Homo sapiens: one gene and its partner. The protein of the gene in region 1 interacts with the protein of each later gene in a pairwise test. Each region holds a gene or a part of one and is shown in the gene's direction. Other genes may lie near its edges.

Region 1 (4,868 bases):
TTTCTAACGTAGAAGAATGAAACAGAACTATCCCTAGCAAATATAAAGGTTTATTATAAAATTATAATTAATAAGATAATGTGGTTTTATCAAAACTATAGAAAAATTAATAAAGGAACAGAACAGAATACAGCAATAAAGCTATGCATATATGGAAACTTGATTTATGAACACAGATGAAACAGTGATCACTGGAAAAAAGCTGGGTTATTTAATAAATGGACCTGGGACAATGTGTTATCCATTTAAAATAAAGTAAAGTTAAGCCTATTCTTCAGACTATATACTAAAATCAGTACTTCATTGATTAAGTACCTCAGTTTGAAAGGCAAACTTTTTTTTTCTTTTTGAGACAGGATCTTGCTCTGTTGCCCAGGCTGGAGTGCAGTGGTGCAACAACCACTGACTGCAACCTCAACCACTTGGGCTCAAGCAATCCTCCAACCCTAGCCTCCTGAGAAGCTGGGACTACAGGCACTATGCCATCCCACCCACCTAATTTTATTTTATTTTATTTTATTTTATTTTATTTTATTTTATTTTATTTTATTTTATTTTATCTATTTATTTGTAGAGACAGGGTCCCACTGTGTTGGAAAAGGCAACCTTTAAAACTCTTAGAAGAAGACACAATAGAATATCTTACTGGCTTCAGAAAATAGATTTTTTTAGAAAAAGAAAACACAAAACACTAGTCATAAAAGAAACAATAGATAAATTTAAACATATTAATTAATATTAAGAGTTTCTAATCATCAAAAGACACTCTAAGAAAAGGAAAAAGAAACAGCATACATTGAGAGAAGATAGATAGCAGCAGCCATATAACTGCAGTCTCCAGGGAAGTTCCCATGATATGCTTATCAGGACACAAATGCAAGAATGTCTATAGCAGCATTACATATAGAAAAAAAAGAATTCAAATATCCATGGATGGTAGAACAGAAAAATGGTGCTATATTGACAGAATTTGGAATATTATACAATGATAAAAAATAAATAAATAGAGTCTTTTGAATCAACAAAGATGTGGCAAAAAGCCTACACTTAGGAACATTCCATTGATAAACCTAACAAACAAATAAAATTAAAGAGTATAGTTTTAATATTACTTGTTATGAAAAAAATTTGTTTTCTTTTTTAAGAAAGACTTGGAGGTGACACACAAAATTCAGGCTTGTGGTACTTTTAGGTGGGGTAGACAGAGAAATACAATGTAAAAAGAACACTTTGCTTGCTAGAAGCTATAATTATGAGAAATGCAATGTGAAAGAAACAGATTTCCTCCTAAACAAGATGCAATAATGCCAATTATATTCTAGTTCTGATAATGTATAGACCTTTAATGTCTGTTTGCTGTTTTTTTTGTTTTTAATACATATATGTTATTTAAATATATATATTTATTTAAATGTATTAGGCAAATTCAATGAAGCTTTTAAAAAGAAAATACCTGTACAAAGCTGATGTGAATGATGTAGTATATAATCTTGGTGTTAGCATTTAACAAATGTTGAGAATTTTTTATTGTGACCATATTTTAAAGAAATCACTAGATCAAATATTTGCAAAGTAAAATAAATGAATTAAGGTAGAAAATAAAAAGAAGAGTTCAAAAGAAGATAGGCTCAGTGTGAGGTGGAATGGTCAAATAAAGATTTGTGAAAGCAGCAGTAGTTTCTGATGGCAGAGTATGGCCTTTCAGATGCCGCTTAATCAGTAGCTGCAGGAGCATGTTTTAAATTGGTTCAGGAAATGACAGCTGGATGTCAAATCAAAGAAGAACTTAGGAGTGGGGGGCTTTGACCAACACAAATATTATGTTAGCTCCAATTCACAGAAGCTCTTTATAGACGCAAGTGCTTTGAGTGCCTTAAATGACAAAGTTTTTGTTTAGTTCCATATTTTACATTGTATGCTGTAAAATACAAATATAGTACTTTGTATGCACCTTTTGAAACTTTAAAAATTATTATCATGAACATGTAACCTGATTAAATTCAACGTGGATTTATTTTTCTATTCACTCCTTCATGGTGTCTTTGTATAAGCCTTTGAGGAACTTCTTTTCATTGATGACACTAAGGAGAAAAAAATGTCACTTTAATTATCTCTTTTTTTCTGTTTGTTTGTTCCCTTTCTTGGTTGAAGGTGAAAGTCTGGTTCCAAAACAGGCGGATGAAGTGGAAGAGGGTAAAGGGTGGACAGCAAGGAGCTGCGGCTCGGGAAAAGGAACTGGTGAATGTGAAAAAGGGAACACTTCTCCCATCAGAGCTGTCGGGAATTGGTGCAGCCACCCTCCAGCAAACAGGGGACTCTATAGCAAATGAAGACAGTCACGACAGTGACCACAGCTCAGAGCATGCGCACTTATGATATAAACAGAGGACCAGCTCCATTCTCAGGAAAGAAATGTTGTGATGGCAAGCCTTACCCAAATATCGTTTACACAGAGAGATGACTATGGCAGTGATGTTTAATATTATTAAATCCAGGCATTTCGAATCTGTTTTTCATGATTTATAGAGGGTTTACACAAAGTGCCACTTATTAAAGAGCTTCCACAGTGAAGATGGAGAAGGTGAACTTGCTTTGAATATTCCAGATGTGTTTGGTCGTGCGTATGGCAGTGAGCAGGTATGTGTTTGCTTTTGCTTGCACTGAAAATTAAATTGCTATCAAGAGCAAACTATGAACGGTTTTTTATTCAAGATGTCTCCAGAGTGAAGATGCCGAGGATGAACTTGCATTGAACATTCCAGATGTGTGAGATCATGTGTATTACAGTGGGCAGGTATTTGCTTTTGCTTGCACTGAAAATTAAATTGCTATCAAGAATAAACCATGAAACATTTTATCCTGAACAGCCACAGTGCCTGAATTCACTCAAGTGGATAAAAAGTGTATTTTAACTCTGTATATATTACCCTTAAGTCATTTTCCTGTCTTCACTAATTTAGCAATGCATTCATATTAGCTGATGAAAATAGGCACTCACAATGACAACCAGAGCCAGTTTCTTGTCTTTTTTATACATTTTGTCATCCCAGAGACAATCAGTATGTGCTTACCTGTGTTCAAGTAGAGAAAAATACAGTAGAGTCTGATAGGACATATTCTTGTACCACAGACAAAACAAATCTTATGTTGCATTTACTATCAACTGCTGCTAATACGTTATTATAAAACTTACCTAGCTCCTGAATTCTTCCTATCTTATAGCTTAAAACAATTAGGATCATAGGCAAATCAGTTACCTTGCAGAAAGAGCTTTGTATGACAGACATTGTCTTATTTTATTTCTGTAAAATATTAGCTGTATGAATATGATTTAATTAACAAGAAAACATTTCTTCCTGATTGACAACAGTGTTAGACAAGGTGCAAAGCGAAACTGGTTGCTCAAGTTGATAGAAAACAAAATTCTGAATATCTTCAAATTAAATTCGGTAAAAACACATTATTTTTTCATATGTGATGTATTCATGCAGAACAACTATCTTTGTATTTTGTTTTTAAAATGTGTTTAATAAATGATCCTTTGTAAATAACTTTGGTCTCCCTACATTAATTTTCTTAATTTTTATAGATTTCAATATCAATGATTAACAAAGTCTCAAATCTATCTGCACTTGTGCAAATCCAGATGATTATAATTAGTGGATTATTTACATTTTTTCATTTCTGAATTTTTTTATTATGGCAGGAAAAAAATAAATCCTTGTGTAATCAAAGGGCGCCTAAGAATGGGCATATATTAAGCTATTTCTCTAATTTGAAGAATACAGTGAATGGATTTTTTTGTGTGTTTTATGAAGCCACAGATAAAAGTAGGAAAAAAGTATTAAATAATAGTATTCACCACAGTGAGGAAAATAAAATAGTCATACATTTTTAAAGTTATGTCTGATATATGTAAGTTAATCCAACAGTGGTTTTATAGTCTGAATATGCAGAGTCTCTGATGTGAAATATAAGCTAAAGAAGCTAATCAGAGTCCTCAGTTCTAATGGGACTAATGCAAGAAGTAAAGGATGCTATTAACATAATGTATTTTGCATCATGCATGATTGCACACGCATGGGGTGCCTTAGTCCTACTTATAGCTTTATCACATTGTTTTTCATTTGTTTCATATTCTAAGCAGAAATGCTTGGAAACATTGCCAGCCTTCCTCCCCTGCCTCAATCCGAAACAAATACAGAAAAACAATCAGTAAAAATTTCCAAAAACCCATCAGTTAATTGATTACACTTGCTTTAGAATGATCAGACTGACAAAAATTAATTTGATATATTTTAACTTAATCTAGCGTGATATATAGAGAGTATCCCAGAAATAAATAATTTTTTTGTATCACATTTTCCTTTCATGTAATACATTTTACCTCAGTAGTTGTCAGTATTTTAAAATTAACTGAGAATAGACCATTCGAATTGAGGTCTCCCAGGCATGAAACAGACACTTTTCCATTAATCACCTGAATTAATACAAAGTCTGCTTGTGCTGATGACATCTACTTGGGTGGACTGACTTTCTTACTGTAGAAGAGGATTTAAATTCAAAACATCTTGACAAATTAGTGAAGTGGGAAGATATGAATCAAATTGAGTTCAATAGGGACAAAGTGGAGGATAATTCATTTGGGCAGGAAAATAATTTCCAGAAATAAGAGAAAAGGACCCCTTAGAAGTAGCTAAAAGGAGAGCTAATGGTTGTAGCCAAATAGACGTAAGAATTCCAATGTAGTAAGAAAATGAAATAGGAAAAAGGGATTCCGAATAGATATAACATTCGGGAAATGGGAGGTTTTTGTATCATGGCCATATCTTTATTAGAGAATTGTAAGCAATCCTGAAATGAAATTT
Region 2 (9,309 bases), on another chromosome or scaffold:
CATAATGTATTCCTGGAAAAATGTATGAAACTGATTTCACAAAAGTCGAACAACAGATTTCTGTGCTACAAAGGATGTTCCATTTACTGAGAACTACTCAAATTATAAAATCCCAAATTACTTCTCACCTGTTAGGCATCATTGTCAAAGATAGTGTCCAGGGTTTCATACATGTTATTTTTAAAAATTAATTGGATTGGCTGGGCGTGATGGCTCATACCTGTAATCCCGGCACTTTGGGAGGCTGAGGTGGGCAGATCACGAGGTCAGGAGTTCGAGACCAACCTGGCCAACATGGTGAAACTCTGTCTCTACTAAAGATACAAAATATTAGCTGGGCGTGGCAGCACGTGCCTGTAATCCCAGCTTCACAAGGGGCTAAGCCAGGAGAATCGCTTGAACCCGGGAGGTCGAGGTTGCAGTGAGCAGAGAGCACGCCATTGCACTCCAGCCTGGGCGACAGAGCAAGACACTGTCTTAAAAAAAGAAAAAAAGAAAAAAGAAAAGAAAATTAATTGGATTTATCTTATTGGGTATTTTTTTTTCTCACTACAAAATGATAGATTAGATGCTTGTTGCAAGAAAAATTCAAACCAGGTGCAGTGGCTCATGCCTGTAATCTCAGGGCTTTGGGGGGCCGAGGAGGGAGGATCACTTGAGCCCAGGAGGTCAAGATCAGCCCAGGCAACATAGTGAGACCCCGTCTCTACACAAATAATAAAATTAGCTGACATGATGGTGCACACCTATCGTCACAGCTACTTGGGAGGCTGAGGCAGGAGGATCGCTCGAGCCCAGGAATTCAAGGCTGCAGTGAGCTATGATGATGACACGGCACTCCAGTCTGGGTGGCAGAGCAAGACTCTGTCTCAAAAAAAAAAAAAAAAAAAAAAAGGCCAGGCGCAGTAGCTCACGCTTGTAATCCCAGCACTTTGGGAGGCTGAGGCAGGCAGATCATGAGGTCAGGAGATCAAGACCATCCTGGTTAACACGGTGAAACCCCGTCTCTACTAAAAATACAAAAAATTAACTGGGCGTGGTGGTGGGCGCCTGTAGTTCCAGCTACTTGGGAGGCTGAGGCAGGAGAATGGCATGAACCCGGGAGGCGGATCTTGCAGTGAGCCGAGATCGCACCACTGCACTCCAGCCTGGGCGACAGAGCGAGACTCCATCTCAAAAACAAAAAAAAGGAAGAAGAATAAGAGGAGGAGGAGGAGGAAGAGAAGGAGGAGGAGGGAGGAGGAGGAAGGAGGAGGAGGAAGGAGAAGGACAAAGAGAAGAAGAAGACAGCAACAGAAAATGAGAGACATGATTAATCCAGCATGCTTAATAGTTTAGTAGTAGATTTTTCCATGGTGTCCTTCCCAAAAGGTTTCACCAACGGATGCTGTCTCTAATGATTTGGGAGATTTCTCATTTCCCTACAGCTTCTCCAGCTCTGAGCATTCCCGATCAATTTTTCATTTGACTCAACTGGAGTGGGAAATTGACTAGATTGTGAAAAGCATGCACATGCTCCAATGGTCTCCATCTCCTCCACAATATTTTTTTTCTTTTCTTTTTTTTTTTTTTTTTGAGATGGAGTTTTGCTCTTGTTGCCCAGGCTGGAGTACAATGGCACGATCTCGGCTCACCGCAACCTCCGCCTCCTGGGTTCAAGCAATTCTCCTGCCTCAGCCTCCCGAGTAGCTAGGATTACAGGCATGCGCCACCATGCCTGGCTAATTTTGTATTTTTAGTAGAGACAGGGTTTCTCCATGTTGGTCAGGCTGGTCTGGAACTCCCGACCTCAGGTGATCCCCACCTTGGGCTCTCAGCCTCCCAAGGTGCTGGGATTACAGGCGTGAGCCACCGTGCCCAGCAATTTTTTTTTTTTTTTGAGATGGAGTCTCACTCTATTGCCCAGGCTGGAGTGTAGTTGTGCGATCTCGGCTCACGGCAACCTCTGCCTCCCGGGTTCAAGTGATTCCCCCACCTCAGCCTCCCGAGTAGCTGGGACTACAGGCACACACCACCATGCCTGGCTATTTTTTGTATTTTTAGTAGACAGGATTTTGCCATGTTGGCCAGGCTGGTTTCGAACTCTTGGCCTCAAGTGATCTGCCCTCCTGGGCCTCCCAAAGTGCTGGGATTACAGGTGTGAGCCACTGCACCCGGCCTTCCTCCATAATTGAACACAGTCGCCCAGCTTAAGCCTCCAAGGGTCCAGTTCCAGGTCAAGATTTGCTGCTTTTTTTGTTTTGTTTTGTTTTGTTTCGTTTTGGTTTTGAGACAGAGTCTTGCTCTGTCACCCAGGCTGGAGTGCAGTGGCATAATCTTGGCTCACTGCAACCTCTGCCTCCTGGGTTCAAGTGATTTTCCTGCCTCAGCCTCCCAAATAGCTGGGATTACAGGTACCCGCCACCACGCCCAGCTAATTTTTGTATTTTTAGTAGAGATGAGGTTTCCATGTTAGCCAGGCTGGTCTCGAATTCCTGACCTCAGGTGATCCACCTACTTTGGTCTCGTAAAGTGCTGGGGTTACAAGAGTGAGCCACCGCGCCTGGCTGATGGGGTCTCACTATGTTGCCCAGCATGGCCTCGAAATCCTGGCCTCAAGTGATCCTCCTGCCTTGGCTTCCCAAGTGCCGAGATTACAGGCATGAGCCACTGTGCCCAGTCAATGAGCTTTTAATGTACATAATGTGGCTGAAGTGATGTGGGACTTTCAGGCTAGATCATAAAAAGATACAACTTCCACCTGGCTCTCAGCTCTTGGAAGGTGCTCGGGAGGCCAGCTCCCATGCTGGGAGTACACTCATGCCACTCAAGTATACTGGGAGGAATCGAGGCATCCCGCCAATCATAGCACCCATCTGCATGCCCTGAGAGTGAGCCACCTTGGAAGCAGATTCGCCAGCCCCCGTCAAACCTTCAGATGACTGAAGCCCTGACCAACTCCTTAACTGCAACCTTCTGAGAGGCCCTGAGCCAGAACAGCCCAGCAGCAAAGCCATTTCTCAAGTCCTAAGCTACAAAGACCACATGAAATCATAAGGATGGACCAGGTGCAGTGACTCACACCTGAAATCCCAGCATTTTGGGAGGCCAAGGCAACAGGATCACTTAAGCCCAGGGGTTCAAGACCAGCCTGGGCAACATAGTGAGACCCCCCCGCCCCCAGCTCTACAAAAAAGTATAAAAATTAGCCGGGAGTGGTGGCACATGCATGTAGTCCCAACTACTCGGGAGGCTGAGGCAGGAGAATTGCCTGAACCCGGGAGGCAGAGGTTGCAGCGAGCCGAGATCGTGCCACTGCACTGCAACCTGGGTGACAGAGCAAGACTCTGTCTCAAAACAAAAACAAAACCCAAACAAAACAACAACAAAATAACAAACAAATTAGCCGGATGTGGTGGCACATACCTGCAGTCCCAGCTACTCAGAAGGCCAAGGCCGGAGGATTGCTTGAGCTCAGGAGGTTGAGGCTGCAGCGGAGCTATGATTGTGCCACTGCACGCCAGCCTGGGTGACAGAGTGAGACCCCGTCTCTTAAAACAAATTTAAAAAAATGCTAGCTCTACGAGGGCAGGGATCTTTGTTTTGTTTGCTGTCATGTCCACAGTGCCTGGAACAGCATTGGGAACAGAGTACACGCTCTATGTGGTTGCCACGGTGATTATAACCTAACAGACCTTTGGTCTGCATATTCTGCGCTAAAAAAAAAAATCAAAAAACAAAAAACCTACCAGATCTGATTTATGTCAGGGCTAGCTCAGACTCTTACCTGTTTCCTGCCCACTCAGTGCCCATCTCGGCCAGTGAATGGGACATAGCTATGACCTCCCTCTGCACTGGGCAAATAGATTAGTAACTGGCAACTATGACAGGCGATCCACTCCAAACCTCGCCACTTCCCTCAGGATAAAATCCCAGGTCTTCTGTGCAGTTTCCAGCCCCCATCCTGCCTAGGATTCCACCATTCAGCCACAAGGAATCATGAACTGCTTGTAGTTTGCAAATACAGTAGTCTCCAGAGTGGAGTACATACACCCTATAAACAAAGCTTTGGGGTTCAACTGGAAAAACTTTAGAATATCTAGATTTGGGGGGTTTTATTGTTTGTTTTTTAGTCTTTTAAAAATAACTTTTTCCTTTTCTTTTTTCTTTTTTTAAAGACAAGGTCTTGCTATGTTGCCCAGGCTGGTTTTGAACTCCTGACCTCCAGTGATTCTCCCACCTTGACCTCCCAAAGTGCTAGCATTACAGGTGTGAACCATCATGCCCAGCTCCATTTATCTATCAATATTTTATATAACAGTTAACAGAATATATTGATATAATTGTATTTGTATATAATTTATAAATAATATCCATCTTTGAGGCCAGGAGTTTGAGACCAGCCTGGGCAACATAGTGAGACCCCGTCTCTACAAAAAAAATAGAAAATTAACCAGGCATAGTGGCATATGCCAGTAGTCCCAGCTACTTAGCAGGCTGAGGCAGGAGGATCGTTTGAGCCCAGGAGTTAGAGGCTGCAGTGAGCCACCATCAAACCACTGCACTCCAGCCTGGGCAACAGAGCAAGATCTTGTCTCAAAAAATAAATAAATGAATAAATATCCATCTGGGGGTGTAACTTTAACACTTTTACCTATAGGGGTGTGCAATGGAGAAAAAAATTTGGAGTCGTTGAACACAATGCTATTTTGCTCCTCAGAGAGTATCCGGCAGTCTCTGGAGACGTTTTTGGTAGTCACAACAGGGAGAGTAGGGAACCACTGGCATCTAGTGGGTGGAGGCCAGGGATGGTGTTAAATGTCCCCCAATACACAGGACAGTCCCCCACACAAAGAACTAGGCCGCCCAAAGTGTCAAGAGTGCTGGGCTTGAGAAGCCATTGCCCAAAAACCCCAGACTTAGTCTTGCTTTGGGGGCTCTGCACGGCTGCCTCATCTCCCCACTCTATTCCTCCCCTAGCTAAGACCTCCAATTTCAGTGACTCTACAAAGCATCCCCTCCTCCAATGAAGTTGCCATCTCTGTGTCCCCAGGCTGGGCCAGAGCCCCACCACCTAAGGGCTCCCTGATGTGCCCTGTACTGGGTTAGAATTGTCCGTCCCACGGGGTTCTTAACCATTGCAGATTCCCTGGATCCCTGAGACAGCCGGATTCTACCGGGCTACTAGAGACCAAGAATCTGTATTTTTCTCAAGCACCGCTCCCCCCAACCACACACACACTGCCTGCCCCTATCAAGGGCACACAGCAGGTGGCCCAGTGACTAGTTGAACGCCTACTGCAAGCCAGGCGCTATTACGCGATCCACTCGGGAATCTTGGCACATACTCCACTCCATGGTGTAGACACCAGGATTCTCCCCATTTCACAGAGGGGTAAACTGAGGTTGAGAGAGGTGACCGTAGCTAGGACAGAGACTCAGGGCAGGAAAAGGGCCCAGGTCCTCATGAGCGCCAGATTCCCGGGGAAGGAGGGAGAACAGAGAGGAGGGTGATGAACTGGGGGAGCGCGCGCTGGGTGGGGGGGCGCGGGGCCTCGCCGCGGCCTTCTGATGCGGCCCCGCCCCCACGAGGGACGTGAAGACGCGGACCCCGCGCAGCGTGGGGACATGTGACCGACTGCAGAGGCCGCGCCGCCTCCCCCGTCCGAGGTCTGCGCGCTCCGCCGCAGGGTGCAGACCCGGGGCGCCCGCCTGGGTTTGGGGCGCAAGAGCAGAGGCGGAGCCAGGGCGGAGCCAGCGCGCCGGGTCCCCCCTGAATCGAAAGCGAAACAGGGGCCGGGGAGGAAGGGCGGAGCCGGCCCCGAGGCACCGCCCCCTGCCCTGCGCGGCTGCTGGACCGACGGGCGCACCCAGGTAGGGGGGCGGCTGAGCCGCGCAGTGCGGACCCTCGCGGGGAACTGCGCCGCCGCCACCATGTCTCAGGAAGGTGTGGAGGTAAGCGATGGCTACGGCTGGGCCGGGGTCAGCCGCGACAGACCCCGAGGAGCGGCCGGGAGGCGCGGAGGGGGCTTCGCAGTTCCTGGGGACCCCCATCCTAGAACCCCAGATCCTTACCCCTGCCTGGCGCTCGCCCCCCTTGAAAAGGAAAGTGACTCCCACGTTTCCCCAGAGCGAAATGAGGCCTCCCCGAGGAAAAGCGGGGGCTGCAGGGTCAAAGGTCAGAGGCCAGAGATAACCTGGCCGCCCCCCCACACCTTAGGCTGGGACGCTCGCCCCAGTCCGCGCCTTCCCCCAACGCCCTGTGGGGACTTTGGCTTTTTCCAGGAAATGCCGTAAAGGGATGAAAGGCGGGGGGGGGGCGGCGGAGGCCAAAACCAAGGGTCAAGTTCGGGCCGGGAGAACGGTGCCTAGAGATGGGGGAGGGATGATCCCGTTTCCCCTTCCCCCACCGGAACCCCCCTGTCTCCATCCCAGCTGGAGAAGAGCGTCCGGCGCCTCCGGGAGAAGTTTCATGGGAAGGTATCCTCCAAGAAGGCGGGGGCTCTGATGAGGAAATTCGGCAGCGACCACACGGGAGTGGGGCGCTCCATCGTGTACGGTGAGGCTGCAGGGGTCCCGGGCCTGGTGCGGGGACCGCGCGTGGGAGCGCCGAGGGGGCGTGGTCTAGGGAGAGGCGTTGAGATCACCTCCCCCGGAGGTCCCAGCCTTGGGGAGGCTCTGCGTCGCGGCTCTGGGTGGCCTGGAACTCCCACAGACCCTTCAAGGGCCCTTCCCTTATATGCACTCTCCCCCGCAGGGGTAAAGCAAAAAGATGGCCAAGAACTAAGTAACGATCTGGATGCCCAGGTAACCTATCCCCTCCCCTCGCAAAGGACCGGGTCACGGGAGGGAGAGCAAGAGGGGGGACCCGACCCGTTCATGGTGACTGACCCCCCTCTGAAACAGGAGGGACCAGGCATTGTCGGTCCATAACTCATCACCCAATCTCACTTTTTCACCTCTCCATCATTTGTCCGGCCAGGGAGCCTGCAAACAGTAGGCGCTCATTATGTGCTGATTGTATTCAATGGGGGAGAGAGCCATGAAACTAAGCAATGAAAGGAGCCAGGATTATTGCCATCATAGCGGGGGCGCAGAGGTCAGAGAAGGCTTACTGGAGGAGGAGGTACCAAGTCTTAAAGGATGGGGAGGAGTGAGCCCTGGGAGGGGAAAGGGAAAGAAAGGCAGGGGTCTTGGGGTGGGGGAGGGAATGGCATAAGCAAAGGCTGGGAGGTGGGGAAGGGTTGTTAGTGGCAGTCTCTAGAAAGGCTAGGATGAGCAGAGGATTGGGGAGGAGAGAGAGGCAGGGGAATGGAACCCTTGTGTTGAATGAATGAATGAATGAATGAATGAATGAATGAATGAATGGCTTTGAAGCACAGGTGCATCATGGCTACTTTGCTTCTTTGACAGCTTTGGTGATGGGAACGCTGTGGATTTAGCCTGCCTGAAAGGCTTAGTGTAGGGCTGTTAAAGAGTATAATAGGCCAGGCGCGGTGGCTCACGCCTGCAATCCCAACATTTTGGGAGGCCGAGGCGGGCGGATCACCTGAGGTCGGGAGTTTGAGACCAGCCTGACCAACATGGAGAAACCCGTCTCTACTAAAAAATACAAAATTAGCTGGGCATGGTGGCGCATGCCTGTAATCCCAGCTACTCGGGAGGCTGAGGCAGGAGAATCACTTGAACCCAGGAGGCGGAGGTTGCAGTGAGCTGAGATCACACCATTGCACTCCAGCCTGGGCAACAAGAGCGAAACTCTGTCTCAAAAAAAAAAAAAAAAAAAAAATGCCGGGCGCGGTGGCTCACGCCTGTAATCCCAGCACTTTGGGAGGCCAAGGCGGGCGGATCATGAGGTCAGGAGATCGAGACCATCCTGGCTAACATGGTGAAACCCCATCTATACTAAAAATACGAAAAAAAAAATTAGCCAGTTGTGCTGGCAGGCCCCTGTAGTCCCAGCTACTCAGGAGGCTGAGGCAGGAGAATGGCGTGAACCCGGGAGGCGGAGCTTGCAGTGAGCCGAGATCGCACCACTGCACTCCAGCCTGGGCAACAGAGCGATTCTCCGTCTCAAACAAACAAAAACAAACAAAACCAGAGTATAACAAAACATGTATCATAGTCTACATTTATACATATAAAAGTATGATAAAAATGATAGCAGAGGGGCCAGGTGTGGTGGCTCACGCCTGTAATTCCAGCACTTTGGGAGGTTGAGGCGGGCAGATCACTTGAGGTCAGGAGTTCGAGATTAGCCTGGCCAACACGGTGAAACCCCTTCTCTATTAAAAATACAAAAAATTAGCTGGGCGTGGCAGTGCATGCTTGTAATCCCAGCTACTTGGCAGGCTAAGGCAGAAGAATCACTTGAACCTGGGAGGCAGAGGTTGCAGTCAGCCAAGATTGTGCCATTGCACTCTAGCCTGGGAGACAAGAGCGAAACTCCGTCTCAAAAATATAATAATAATAATAATAATAATAATAATAATAATAATATTAGCAGAGAGTAGCATTCATTGAGTACTTCCCACATGGCAAGATTCCAGGAATTTATTTATTTCATCACTGCAGTGACCCCAGGAGACAGGTCCTATTATTTATCCCCATTTCACAGACAAAGAAACTGAGGCCGAAGTCACTTGCCAGCAAGCAGGGGCAGCTGCGATTTGAACCCTGGCCACCTGGAGTCAGAGCCTGGGCTCTAACATGCCTGTCAGTGGGAACCCAGGGGGCAGGGAGTGGCTTGCCCAAGTCCCCACAGCTGGAAGTGATACAGCTGGGATTTGAACCCACATCTCTCTCCCACTTAGCCGAGCACAACGTGGCCTCAAAGGGGCGATATGTCACAACATCAACAAGCATGTGGCATTTGCAGGCAGGAAGTGAGTATGGGGGTCAGGCTAGCCTCACTCAGGCAAGCCCTCCCCTAAGCCTCAGTTTCCCCATCTGAGCAATAAGGTAACAGGTGTGCCCACCTCTCAGGGCTGCTATGAGGACAACTGAGGCCACACACCTGGCTCTCAATAAGTGAGTGGTGCTCTGTGAGCTTCTGGCGAGTTAGGGGCACCCTACTCATTGCGGCCGGGGGCCTCCCCCAGCAAACGGGTGGAAAGAGGCCTGAGCCCCATCCCCAGTTTCTGCCCCTGCTATCTCCACCCAGGATCCACCAGAAGATATGAAGCAGGACCGGGACATTCAGGTGAGTTGGTGGCTAGGGCTTGGGATGGGGGAGTTGGGAGGGGGACATCTGCAGGCACAGAAGGATGTCCATTAGGGCAGGAGGGGAGATATTCACTGGGGCAGGAAGAGGACTCGTCTGTAGGGAGA

The links. Proteins that work in one complex are often made in the same cells at the same time.
Region 2: the proteins of MEOX2 (region 1) and SHFL interact in binary tests that used the Homo sapiens proteins (3 or more experiments, as listed by UniProt).

The regions. Positions count from the first base shown.
Region 1 is NC_000007.14:15,609,895-15,614,762, reverse strand, and holds the end of MEOX2 (homeobox protein MOX-2), read left to right. Parts: intron 1-2,151; coding exon 2,152-2,376; 3' UTR 2,377-3,551; downstream 3,552-4,868. UniProt on the Homo sapiens protein: Mesodermal transcription factor that plays a key role in somitogenesis and somitogenesis and limb muscle differentiation. Required during limb development for normal appendicular muscle formation and for the normal regulation of myogenic genes.
Region 2 is NC_000019.10:10,080,515-10,089,823, forward strand, and holds the start of SHFL (shiftless antiviral inhibitor of ribosomal frameshifting protein), read left to right. Parts: upstream 1-5,802; 5' UTR 5,803-5,913; coding exon 5,914-5,934; intron 5,935-6,414; coding exon 6,415-6,538; intron 6,539-6,736; coding exon 6,737-6,786; intron 6,787-8,596; coding exon of another isoform or gene 8,597-8,864; intron 8,865-8,964; coding exon of another isoform or gene 8,965-8,975; exon of another isoform or gene 8,976-9,136; intron 9,137-9,142; coding exon 9,143-9,181; intron 9,182-9,309.